4 separate regions of the Homo sapiens genome follow, and regions 1, 2 and 4 are each reported to be linked to region 3. Evidence: microRNA targets listed by miRTarBase, many of them from high-throughput screens and not tested one by one. Region 3 holds a microRNA gene; each other region holds the end of a gene's coding sequence.

Evidence for each region. Region 3 holds the annotated microRNA hsa-miR-8089 (CCUGGGGACAGGGGAUUGGGGCAG, at 1,494-1,517, shown strand). A microRNA usually pairs through its seed, bases 2 to 8, with sites in the 3' UTR of a target mRNA and lowers its output. Matches are read on the target gene's strand: a 7mer-m8 pairs with bases 2 to 8, a 7mer-A1 pairs with bases 2 to 7 and ends in A, and an 8mer does both.
Region 1: miRTarBase lists INSIG2 as a target of hsa-miR-8089. The part of its 3' UTR that is shown has no 7-base or 8-base seed match.
Region 2: miRTarBase lists LHFPL4 as a target of hsa-miR-8089. Seed matches in the 3' UTR shown: 7mer-m8 at 636-642, 7mer-m8 at 667-673 and 7mer-A1 at 1,254-1,260.
Region 4: miRTarBase lists BMP7 as a target of hsa-miR-8089. Seed matches in the 3' UTR shown: 7mer-A1 at 1,384-1,390.

What each region holds. Positions count from the first base shown.
Region 1 is chr2:118,108,091-118,111,209 of GRCh38, forward strand. It overlaps INSIG2 (insulin induced gene 2), which reads left to right. Exons shown (of 6, transcript NM_016133.4): 6 at 191-2,907. The coding sequence ends at 232. Among named protein-coding and RNA genes, the nearest start is that of INSIG2, 21 kb to the left of the region's middle.
Region 2 is chr3:9,499,443-9,502,538 of GRCh38, reverse strand. It overlaps LHFPL4 (LHFPL tetraspan subfamily member 4), which reads left to right. Exons shown (of 4, transcript NM_198560.3): 4 at 228-3,096. The coding sequence ends at 328. Among named protein-coding and RNA genes, the nearest start is that of LHFPL4, 53 kb to the left of the region's middle. RefSeq lists an enhancer at 488-1,213.
Region 3 is chr5:181,041,811-181,044,929 of GRCh38, reverse strand. It overlaps MIR8089 (microRNA 8089), which reads left to right and starts at 1,446; the gene lies at 1,446-1,527. All of the region lies in intron 1 of BTNL9 (butyrophilin like 9), which reads right to left.
Region 4 is chr20:57,168,463-57,171,581 of GRCh38, forward strand. It overlaps BMP7 (bone morphogenetic protein 7), which reads right to left. Exons shown (of 7, transcript NM_001719.3): 7 at 291-2,646. The coding sequence ends at 2,497. Among named protein-coding and RNA genes, the nearest start is that of BMP7-AS1, 44 kb to the right of the region's middle.

The DNA.
Region 1 (3,119 bases), not on the chromosome of region 3:
ATGTGAATTATTTTTTTCCCTGTCACATTTGTCATTTAATCATAGTAATTATGTAACTCTTGGATTATTTGAGGAATAAATGGGCACATAGTAATAAAATGTTCATTTTTAGAGCTTTTCAGTTTATTTGGAAGTTGCTATTCAAAAGAAGTCTTAATCTGTTAACCTTTTAACCTTTTAATTTTTGCAGTACGAATGTAAAGTTATCGCAGAAAAATCTCATCAGGAATGAAGAAGGCAAAAAATATCTTTTGTACAGAAAAGCAAGATGAAAAGGATGTGAAATGGTAGATATACCAACAAAACTTCAGACTGTAAAATTGCCAGGATGCAGTTTTCCCCTTGATTGGCGTGTGTGTATATATGGATAAATATATATATACACACACACATATTACTGCAATCTGTGATTGCTTCATCTGTAAATCAGTTGTAAACCTTTACATATTTGACTTAAATAACTGTAAGATATATATGTACTACATTAAAAAGTGTTGATTAATAGATGAAATTTTTAAATTAATTTTTTAAAACATGCCATACATTGTATCACAATGTTAATGTGCCAAGATATTGTTCCTGTCATGCAGAGTATAAGAATGCTTTGAACAATTTGTAGACTTAGTGAAATAAAATAAGAGGAAAGCCAAAAACAAACAAACAAAAAGCATATGGGGAGCTGGTATTTTCTCTTTAGCTTACTGTTGTGCCTTTTTATTTTTCTAATCACAGCAGTATGAGTTATGAGTGCCCTAATTTGTGGTTAGTTTCTAATTTAATGTTGTTTCATAGAGTTTGGAGTGTTTTGATACAGGGTGAAAATGAACTTCTGGTTTCAAACCTGCGTTACTGGAGACAGCCCAAAGAGTAATTTTCTGTTTTGACAGGTTTTACTGGAAGTATATGTGATGAGCAGAAGAGGTTATCAGCATTAAATTGTTTTGGTTCTAAATTTGGAACAGTATATATAATTAAAAGTAAGGAACATTAGAGGATTTAATTAGAATAAATACATGTTTTGGAAATACAGTGACCTCTTGCAGTGTCACAAAAGTGCAAAGTGATATTAGCTGTCATCTGCAATACAGAATCTCATTGCTTTTGCACATGGAGCATATAGGAAACTCCAAACAGATCACAATGAGGTTTCTAAATCTGTTGGGTTCTGTCTTCTATTGGGTTCTGTGAAGCAAACCACTGTAGCTTTAGCTGGGTTCAGTCATATGACTCGTTGGTGGAATGCCTAGGTTTTTCATCTTACATGCAGTCTTGGGGGTGGATGAATACATAATTTCTCATGTATTCGTGTATCCATTAGTGAATAGTTCAAGTCTGTTTAAGAGTGTATTGAGATGGCATTCTCTGCATGTTAAAGATCTTAATGGCAACCAGCACCTCTTAAGTATGGTTTAAACATATTCTTAGCTAATTTTTTCCATTAGTTTTTGAAATTGGTGGCAGTTGTCTGATCCACAAGGGCAAGATCTTCTGAGTACTCTGGGGTGTGAGTATGTGTGCACACGTGTGTGTTGGAGTGAGTGAGAGAATGTGTCTGTGCATGTGGCCATGCTTTCCTAGAATGTCAAGTAGATATTTTTACACTTTGAGTTTTAAAGCAATTACTATCAGACTGAGATCTTGTATGCCAAACTTTAATCTGCTTTTATGTTTTCAGGCTGAAGGTGTGAAAATCCTAAGAGGATTTCATATTGAATATGTGTACACAATCTTAACTATCGTGGTGGAAAACATACTACTATAATTTATTATTATATCTTCCAGATAATGTTATTCATTTAGAACAAATAAGGTATATTTTTTAGAATCAACTTTGTAAGCACTATAAAATCTTTAATAAGTTATAAGGTCTATGATGTGTTTACTTTAAAAATTGCTGTTAAAAGCAACACGTATTAAATATGTAATTATCATCTGGGTTAAGAGTCTGTTTTTCTTCTTTGTGGTAAGTCTTAGAATATGGTACTGTGGATTAATCTAATGAAATTAACATATGTGGTTGAAGTTACCAAGAAACGATGAAAAGAAACTAAATATAGTTGACCCTTGAACAACAGGAGTTAGGGGCACCACTCCCCAACATAGTTGAAAATCCATGTATAACTTTTGACTCCTCCAAAACTTAACTACTAATAGCCTACTCTTGATGGGAAGCCTTACCAATAAGAAACAGTTGATGAACACATATTGTGTATGGTATATGTATTATATACTGTTTTCTTACAATAGTGTAAGCTAAGGAAAAGAAAATGTGTTTACTCTTCATTCAGTGGAAGTGGACCATCCTAAAAGTCTTCACTCATGCTATCTTCATGCTGAGTAGTAGGCTGAGGAGGAGGAGGAGGAGGGGTTGGTCTTGCTGTTGCGGGGGTGGAAGAAGATGTGCATTATTAGTGGGCCCACACAGCTGAAAACCATGCTGTTCAAGGGTCAACTGTGTGTGGTATCGGTGAGACTGAATGATTATCGTTGGTGTTCTTAAATTATTTTCAGGTCCTCTAGAAAATAAGATAATTATAGCAAAAAATAAAATTGTTTTGAAATTTTGATAAATATATAAATGTATAGAACCTATTTTTTTCAATGAAAGAAAATGGGAAACATTTTTTAACATTGCTAGATTGGCAGTGCTTTCTTTTATTATTTCAAGTTATGGAAATTTGCACAGTTGAAAACTGGGGATAAATTCTACAAAAGTGCAAGAAAACAATTCAAATTAGCCAGAGCCCTGCTAAAACTTTTAATGTAAAATTTATTTATTTGCACTGAGCTGTTTTACCTTCTTTAAGGCCATTGGGACCTCTCAATGATGCATATGTTTCATACATCTTGTATTTTCCAGGTAGAAGTCAGACTTGGTTAATACCAATAAATACTTCTGTAATCCTATTGGCTCAGTTACCTTTATAATGAAGTATATTCTGTGTAAGGTAATTCTTCCAGTGATGGTCTGAGTAGTAGAGTCTTAGCTTTGTGTGTCTGAAAAGGTCTGTTTCATTCTGAAGAATAATTTAGCAGGCTGTAGGATTCTATGTTCATAGTTTTTTTCCCTCCCTCAGCACTTTGAAGATTTTTAACTCATTGTCTTCTGTCACCTAATG
Region 2 (3,096 bases), not on the chromosome of region 3:
GTAAAGACAGGGTTGTGCCATGTTGATCAGGCTGGTCTTGAACTCCTGACCTCAAGTGATCCACCCGCCTCAGCCTCCCAAAGTGCTGGGATTACAGGCGTCAGCCACCGCGCCCGGCCCCTCTGCCCACTTGTGCCCTGGGGAATGTGCAAGGAAAGCCTGAATGCCCAGGCAGCCTCTGACTTTCTCTAATTCTCTCTCCTTCTCTCTCTCTCTCTCTCTCTTAGATTTTGTGGGCTCTACAGTAAGCTCCGTGTTGCGGCCCGGGGGTGATGTCTCTGGATGGGGAGTCCTTCCCTGCCCCGTGGCTCACTCACAGGGACCCTGAAAGGCCAGGATCACAGCCCAGTAATTGGCCTGACCTCAGCTTGTCCTGCCTTCTGCCCTCTCGTCACTCCATTCAAGCTCTGAGGGAAGACCCTGATCTCAGACTTACTTCTCACCGACTACCCTGCAAGCTCCAGGCTTTGAGGAGAGGAAAGCCTGGATGTGGCCTGGGGGAGAGGAGAGGCCCTCCAAACCTTGGGAGGGTCTAATTCTTGCTCCTCCCTCAATTTGACCTAAGGGAGCCTGCATCTGCGTAGGCCCTTGGGCTTCTCCTCTCCTCTCTAGACTGGCCTGGAGGTCCCTGCAGATCCCCAGGGAGAGCGGAGCTGTAGTTCCAGCTCCCCAGGCCCCCTCAGTCTGGAGGGCTGCCGCCTGGCTGTATCCGCACCTCTTCTGGTCCCTGCCTCTTCAAGAAATTTATTCTAGATACTGCTCCAGGGTGGGCTGGACTCTTTCCTACTTTTTTTTTTTTTCTTTTTTGGCTGATGTTGGTTCCACCACATCTGCCACAAAGCTCCAGGTGCCACCAGTCTCCCCTGGGACCTCCTCTGCTCCATTCCGGCCTGCTCCCAGCTCACCCTGAGGGAGAGCTGCACCGAGGGATGCACAGGGCCCTGCTGTCAGCTGCAGACCGGGGCCCTGATCAGCCCAGAGTCAGAAAAGACTTTCAGGCTCTGGAGGTAGCGGGAGGGGGTACGTGGCCTCGGCAGTTGGAGCTTAGAAGCTGCTCAGCCCGGGCTGGCCTGGCCTCCTCTTCCTCTCTGCTGGAACATCTCACTGATGACTGAGCCCTTGACCTTGGCCTCTTTTGCCCAGGCCTCCTCTCTGCTGGGATGTCTCACCAATGACTGGACCCTTGACCCTGGCCTGTTTTGTACAGCACAGACTTCTTGGCCCTGTTGTCAGGGTTGGGGGTGTGGAGGGGACCCCAGAGGTGGGGAGTTGGGGGATGCATTACCCCTTCTGCCCCTTTTCATGCCCTCCATACCCCAGGCGTCTACCAAGGGCAGAGACTGTCTTGTCTCTTTGATACTTTTCTGCATAACTTGAACTTGCAGGTCATCTCTGAACAGGGTACCCCTGTCCCCCTTCCTAAGCCTTGTTACCCTGTCCCAGCCTCTTCCTCCTCCTGGCCCACCTCTCGCCTTGCGATATGCCCAGGGTCTGCACCTATGGGCAGTGCTTGGAGCCGAGGCATGAGTGTATGTGTATGTGGGTGAAATGTGTGTGCGTGTGTGTGCGCGTGTGAGCGTGTGTGTGTGTGTGTGTGTTGGGGGACAGGTGAGAAGTTTCTCCCCCCTCCACCCACTGTGGGGGCGTCTCCCTTCCCCTTGGCAGGGAGCAGGTGAGGGAGACTCCTGGTATTTTTTGAACACCCGTCATTCCCCTGTGGGTCTGGCGGCAGAGCCATCTCTCCCGGGGAGCCTCCCTGCCCTGGGGCCTGGACAGCTCCCTCAGCACTAGTTGCTGGTGCAGACCGGCTTCGTCCAGCGCCCCCTCCTGGCGGCCTGGACCTGCAGGGAAGGGGCGGTGCCCTGCAGGATGCCAGGGGAAGCCGCCTCGGGCCTCGGCGGAGGGGAGAGGGTCGCTTGAGCGCCATGTGTTTGCCAACCTTGTGTTCATTTCCACAGGACTTGGACCTGAGAGTTAGGGTTTCCAAGAAAGACCCTAGAAGTCCCCTGCCTGTCTCCCCACTCTGGACCCTAGCCGGAATCAGATGTTGGGACCTAGTGGGTTCCTGCCACCTGGAACTTACCAAGTCCCGACTTCACTCCTCCACTTACTCCTCCCGGGCAAAGCCTCCCCGCAGTGCTCTGGTCCCAGCGCTGGGCTCCCCTTCCCCGCCGGCGCCTTCCCGGACAGTCCAGTCGGCCTGGGGTAGGGGCGCTGCGGGACAGAGGGTCCGAGTTAAATGCGGGAGGATGCGGGAGCCCCGTGGGAGGGAGTTGGGGTAGGAGGGAGTTCCTCAAAGATGCAAACCAAGCCCAGCGTTGGAGGGGGAGAGCAGAGTTAGGAGAGAGTGAGGGGAGGGGCGCAGCAAGCGACTGGGAATGGGAGAAGACACTGGGGTGAGGAGAAGAGGGGTGCAGAGACAGGGAGATGAGAGATGATTGGAGAAGGAGCGAGGGGGACGCACAGGCACAGAGAAACAGCGCGAGGAGGAGAGATCGAGAGAGACGGGGCAGAGGTGGAGAGAGATGAGAGACCAGCTGAGAGGCTGCCCGAGAGCTTGGGGTGGGGGAGGGGAAATGGATGAAAAGGCGGAAAAAGGACTCGGGAGCGGGGAAGAGGTAAATGGAGATGTGGGTTGGGGGCAAGAATGGGATGCAGAGGAAGGAGAGGAGGATGAAGGAGCCAGGATGCGGGGCAGTGGGGAGGGGGTTGCTATCTGGGCACTGGGTGAGGGGAGAGCTTGTTCCCCCAAGGACGCCTGCCACCAGGTGTCCTTGCCACACCTTGTTCCCCAAGGACACCCACCAAACCTGTGCCCTGGTGCGGGGGATAGAACTGACCTTTCAGAGGCTGGAGGCCCGGGGCACAGGCAGCCAAGGCCGCATCCTTTTGGGAAGAACTGGAGTGAAGGAAGCCACTTCAGAGGACGTAGTGGGTCCAGCTGACTTAGGAGTGGGTCAGCGCCGGGTGGAGAGGAGGGAGGCTAGTTCCCTGGTGGGGTAGCCTGGCAACATTCCCATTCCACCGCACCTGGCCAGCTGCCATCTTGGCAGAGCCAGGGGGAGATGCACCAGGGAGTTTGGAGTCAGGAAGGCA
Region 3 (3,119 bases):
AGCCCCAACGACATCCTAGGACACTCTCCTCCAGGCCTGGGACCTCAAGTTGTGCCTTCAGGAGGCCAGCTGGTAACTGTCTCTGTGTCGATAGCATCTTCGGGGCTACAGTGATGGAGTCATCCCATCTAGCCACCCCTTCCTCATCTATGACCCAGGAGGCCCAGACCTGGCCCAGACAAGGGCTACCCCCTCACTCCTGATGCTCTGCTCCCTTGGGACCCACTAATGACTCACGGCCAGAGAGTGTGCTGCTGCCAATGAGTCTCTGGAGATACACAAAACTCTCCATATTTCTCTTGCATTTAGTTCTGCAAGATTTTAGGCAGATTCTGTCATTGGCTGGACCGAAATCTCTGCCTGAACCATGGAAGAAACCAATGCCCACTCCCATGGGTTGCTAGGAGCTCTTGAAATCAAAGTCAGCACCTCCCTTCCCCCTGCCTTCCCAACGCCCACGCACTGTCTTCGTCCTGGGACTGCACCCCTTGCCTTTCACTTCATCACAGTGCCCTTGTTGGAAGGCCACGGTGGGCTCCTCTCTCCAACCCTCTCTGTCTCCCCGTCGGCCCCCACGGCTTGGCTTTTCTTCCGAGACCTTGGCATGGCAGGTGTTTCCGGTGTCCTGTGGCCACAGGGCACTGGCCACACTGTCAGCAACACCATCAGCAGGTGTGAAGGAAGGACTTTCAAAGCTGCTGGGCCATGCAGAGGCAGAAGGATCAGAGGAGGTGTGCAGGGTGAGTTAATGAGGTGGTAGAGGCTCCCCAGGGACCCTTAGGCTAGGAGGCACCCAGACAGGCAGGAATACAAGGGAAGAGGGGTGGCCTGTGAGGCGCATGGGCTGATGGCCCTGTCTCCTAGAGCTAAAATTGAGGGGACAAACAGAGGACAGGTTGGGACAGCTCCAGGTGTGTTTCAAGAAGGTTCAAGGACAGGAGGTGGGGTCCCCCCGAAGCGGGGCCGTGTTGACACCTCTCAGTTATTGGAACACGATTCACACAATAACCAGCATGGGCAGAGGCCTCGGGCAGGGTCCAGGCCCTGGCTGGACAGTCCAGACTCTCACCCTCTGTGGCTACTGGTGGAAGCCTCTCTGCGACAGGTGGGGAAGCTGGCAAGGAAGGGTTCCAGCAAAGGGGTCTACACTGGTTGTGCACCTTCTCACCCTCTCTTCTGTTCCCTTCTCTTTTCCTTTATACTTCAGTCTTTTCTTCTGGATTCTAGACACAGGTTAGAGCTCCATGACAGCAAAACCAGGAGGGGCACGTCAGTGTTCAGCTAGTAACTTCCAAAACCAAGAGGGGCTCAGGGTGTGTTTATGCATCCATTCAGATGGGTTGGGTTCTGGGGAATTAGTCGAGGTTGTGTTAGGTTGTGACACAGGTCTGCTCATAAGGTGGTAATGGGGCGCGAGACAGGTCCCACAGCTGGCCTTCTCACAGAAGGAGCACTCACTCCAATTTCCCTGGACTGGGGGCAGGCTGCCACCTCCTGGGGACAGGGGATTGGGGCAGGATGTTCCAGAACCGTGGAAGTGCTAGAGGGACCTCAGTTCTCTGTTGTGATACACCCGTGTGATTCCCATCATGGAATCTTCAGGGGAGGAGGATTGTAGACACACACACACACACACAGACACACACACATGCACACACACACAGACACACCCATGCACACACACACAGACACACACATAGACACACACACAGATGCACACACACAGACACATACACACACACACACGTGCTGACAGTAATAAAACTAACATGCATTGGGTACTTCCTATCTATCAAACACTTATCTATACCTCAGTATTATTATTTTTATTATTATTATTACTAATAGGTCCAAATTATAGATAAGGAAACGGAGGCCCAGGAGCTGAGTGACTTGCTCCTGCACACAGTGGGTGAGTGGTGGGGTGGGGTTCCACCCACTGTCTGGTTCCAGAGCCTCGCTCTGCACTTCTCGAATTCAGATTCCTCACCAGCTACGTCGTGTGTCTGGGTACACCCTTCCGTCACTCCTGTTACCCAAAACCATGACCGTCTCAGGAACCAGCTGGCCACAGACCAAACACTCACCCTAACCTGCCATCACACAGAGGCACTGAAGAAGCGACCGGCTCACACGGTGCCAGCCACAAAACCAGCCAACCAGCCAACTAATGAATACAAAATTTAAAATCCCGCTGCCAGATAAAACAACTTAAAGCTGAGGTCTCCCTAAGACTTTGTCAAGAGCATCTTCTGAGCCAGGAGGAACAGGTACCTGGTCCCTTTGCTCCCAACACTCAAGGGTATCATCTTGAAAGCCTTTAGCAGAGAGAGATGGTCTGGCAGCTTCCTGAAGGGAAAAGTCAGCGGCTCCTGGACAGCACCCTCCTCCCCGTTTGCTGCTGTGCGTCCGCCCTTTCTGACCTCACTCTTCAGTTAAGGATCCAGGGTGCTCAATCCTTACTTGAAGCGTAAGTCCCCTCCTCGAAGGAAACACTTTCCACCCTCTGCTATTTTGATTACAGTGTAAATTGATTTCAGGTTGTTCCTGGTGAGGAGGTTTTGCCTGGGGAAGGAGTAAGGGACTGGACGCGTCGGATATTTGGGGAAGAAGGAAAACCCAGTGTGCGCAAGGACCACAAAGGGGTCCTCCAGCTGGAGCTGAGCTCTGCCGGCGGGCACGTGCTGCTTGTCCTCCCAGGAGCCTTGGGCTGCTCCCTCCGGAAGGCACAGGGAGAAATAAGGGGTCCTGAGAAATGTCACTGCCTGCACCCAGCAAAAGCCCATTTCTTTCTTCTCCTTCTCTTTTTATTTTTCTTTTCTTCTTGCTCTCTCATTGCCCCCAGCCCGCCCCACTCCTGTTCTCTCCTCCTGCACCTGCAATTCCTAAACAACCCTGATGTTTTTCTGATTTCCGGTCCCTCCGTCGAGTCTGTCTTTAAAGATGAGTACTTTTTGCTTTGCTACTGTTATTTTTTTAGATAATTTATTGTTAAATAAAGAATTTTAAAGCAAAATGCAGTGGGACAGATGTCAAAGGCAAGTTGAAAACATAATTTCTGTCAAATACTATTCTGGATTTCCTAAGGTTAGGCACAAGAAAAGCATCAAATGAAAAGG
Region 4 (3,119 bases), not on the chromosome of region 3:
CCCCTGCCTCTTTGAAACAGCTGCTGACAGCTGCACTGTAATTCAATCAAGGACCTTTGTAGTCGAGCCTACCAAATTCACATGTGTTGCTTGGTTCCATCTCTCCTGCCCGGAGCCCCACACAGCTGCACCAAATATTGACGAGCGGCCACTTCCCCGCAAGGCCTGGATGCTAAACAGAGCGTTCACGGTGGAGACGAAGGCAGGGAGCTCTTAGCAGTGTGAGAGAACTTCAGTGTCCAAGAACTGAGAGAAAAACACAACACACACAGACAGACACAGGCCAAAGAGCCAGAACCAAACGTCTCCTTTTATTGCAAGGTCAAACCCTTTTCATTTTGTCTATTTATACAGAATTTTCACTAAGGACTGCTCGACGCAACAGCTGTGAGTACATTGGTCCAACCATTAATAAATAGTCTTAAATAAGAAAACAAACAGGTTGAAGGAAAGCAAGCTCATCGTCCTGAACGAGGGATTAAAGGGGGGGGGGTGTTCAAAAGAGCTTTGGATGGAAATAAATAATCTCTTTGCTTTGTAACAACTATTTACAGGTTTAAATGTACAAATGATGCTAACCAGAGGCTGGTTGGGTCAGAAAACTCACACCAAGAGGGATCACACAAAAAGCCCCAGCTCTGCCAGCAAATGAAACCAAACATAACAAAAAATACTCCTCCCCAGTGACTAGAGAGTGGAGGCTGCAGCCCAAGCTACTAAAGAAGAAAAACATCAAAGAAAATAAAAACAGAGCCCCGGTGTTTCCAGGAACTGTCTGAGTCAAGATGGAGAAACAGTCCCCCACAAGACCGGGTTCCACATGGCCACAGTTTTCGATCACCTTGTTTTCTTTACAGATGCAGAAAACGTTTGCAGACAGTCTAGCCCTCCCCTAGGCCTTGTGTTTGTGGCCGGAGGCTGAGTGCATACTATTTATGGGACTCACCAGCCAAGGCAAGGCAGGCTTACACCAAGAGCCACGTCAGAAATGCCACCTCCAAATCGGGACACTTGGTTAGGATGTCACCCTCAACAAGGCTTCTATTTGCAATGTAAGTCCAGCACATCCTGCACCCATCAGACCTCCTATTATGCCATCTCCCCCTTAATTCAAGGAGCAAATTTGTTTGCAGAGACTTCTGATCAGGGTCTGCAAATGAAGAGACAGCCACGGGTGCCCTTGCCAGGGCCCAGCCTTGGAATGCCACTGCAGACAAAGACCAGAGGGTCCACTGGGGCGATGTGCAGTGCTCCTGCTCACCCCACTCCCGTGGAGAACTAGGCTTCATTGGTGCTGTTTTTTTTTTCTTTTGAGATGGAGTCTTGTTTTGTCACCCAAGCTGGAGTGCAGTGGGACGATCTTGGCTCACTGCAACCTCCACCTCTGGGGTTCAAGCAATTCTCCTGCCTCAGCCTCCAGAGTAGCTGGGATTACAGGTGCGTGCCACCATGCCCGGCTAATTTTTGTATTTTTAGTAGAGATGGGGTTTCACCATGTTGGCCAGGCTGGTCTCGAACTCCTGACCTCAAATGATCCGCCCACCTCAGCCTCCCAAAGTGCTGGGATTACAGGTGGGAGCTACTGTGCCCGGCCCATTGGTGCTTCTTAACAACAGGGTTGAGTTGCAAGTTCCATCCTACTTGCTGTCCTTGTCCCCTCTGCAATTTCACATGGATTTACTACCACTGGGGCGAGGTGAAAAGCCAATCCCAAATGTCTGCGGGTATTTCACACACCTAGTTTCATTTCTGCCACGGCAAATCCAGCTGAACAACAGAACATATTTTTCCTCCAAAGATCAACACACCGCCCTCCTCGGAGCAGACATTTGCTCTTTCCCCTCCCACTAGATCTTGGATTTGGGCAAACCTCGGTAAACACTGGGCCTCTGCAAGCCTCAGGATGAAAACTGTAGGGAATGGAGAGGGACCTCCCCGCCCTCCACTTGACACAGCTTCTGTTTACGCATCAGGATAAACCGAGAAATGGGGATAAATTGTTTAGGAAAATATATCTGTAACGTCCTAACCATTTTCATTCATTCGTTTTATTGTGACATTTATTACAGGAACTTCCGGGTCAATTTTCCTTTCGCACAGACACCAATGTGCCCACCCCTTGCCACGCCCCCTTCCTCCCACGGCTGGGTGGCCTGGCTGGTAGGCGCTCATAATTACCTCTGGAAACGAGTCCGTGCATGGCTGAGACTTCCCAGCCAATGACCTGGCCCGGCCATTTTTCTTTATGCGTTGTTTTTTTTTCCTGCTAGGTTTTGCCTGCACAGCTTGTAGGATCTTGTTCATTGGATGCTGCCACTGAAAAACTGATCAAAAGCCATATGCTGCTCATGTTTCCTAATACTCTCACACCTTTAAAGTTGGGGATAGGGAGGGGAAGGTCTCACAAAAGGCAGTTGGTCTGCTGGTTCCTGGCCAAGGCGAGCAATGGAGGATCCAGAAAAACTTGGCCCCAAAGGGTCTGAATTCTCGGAGGAGCTAGTGGCAGCCACAGGCCCGGACCACCATGTTTCTGTATTTCTTCAGGATGACGTTGGAGCTGTCATCGAAGTAGAGGACGGAGATGGCATTGAGCTGCGTGGGCGCACAGCAGGGCTTGGGCACCGTTTCCGGGTTGATGAAGTGGACCTGAAACACACACCAAAACATGGGCAGTGGTGAGAAGCGGTGAGTCGTTCTAACTGGCCTCCACGTTTCTATAAAGAAACATCCTGTCTGGGCATAATGAATGACTGCAGGTGACACTCCCCAAGCCAAGCACTCCCTGTTCTAAGCACTTTACATGGACAACTCAGTTCTGGGATTATCCCTGTTTTGCAGACAAGGGAACCAAAGCATAGAGGTTTTCACATTATACAGTGGGGAAGGAAGGGGCCAGATCCGACATTCAGGACCAGGTAATTCTCTGTTGGGGAACTGCCCTGTGCACTGTAGATTGCTGAATAGTGTCCCTGACTTGGACCCACTAGAAGTGCTCCATCTTGCTCATGGACTTCTCTGCACCTTACAGAGGATGTGGGACAGGGACACATAGACTCAAATGCCTATGAGTGCCACGTGAGTGCCACTGATAAGCAAAATAGACCGAGGTAAGACAATAG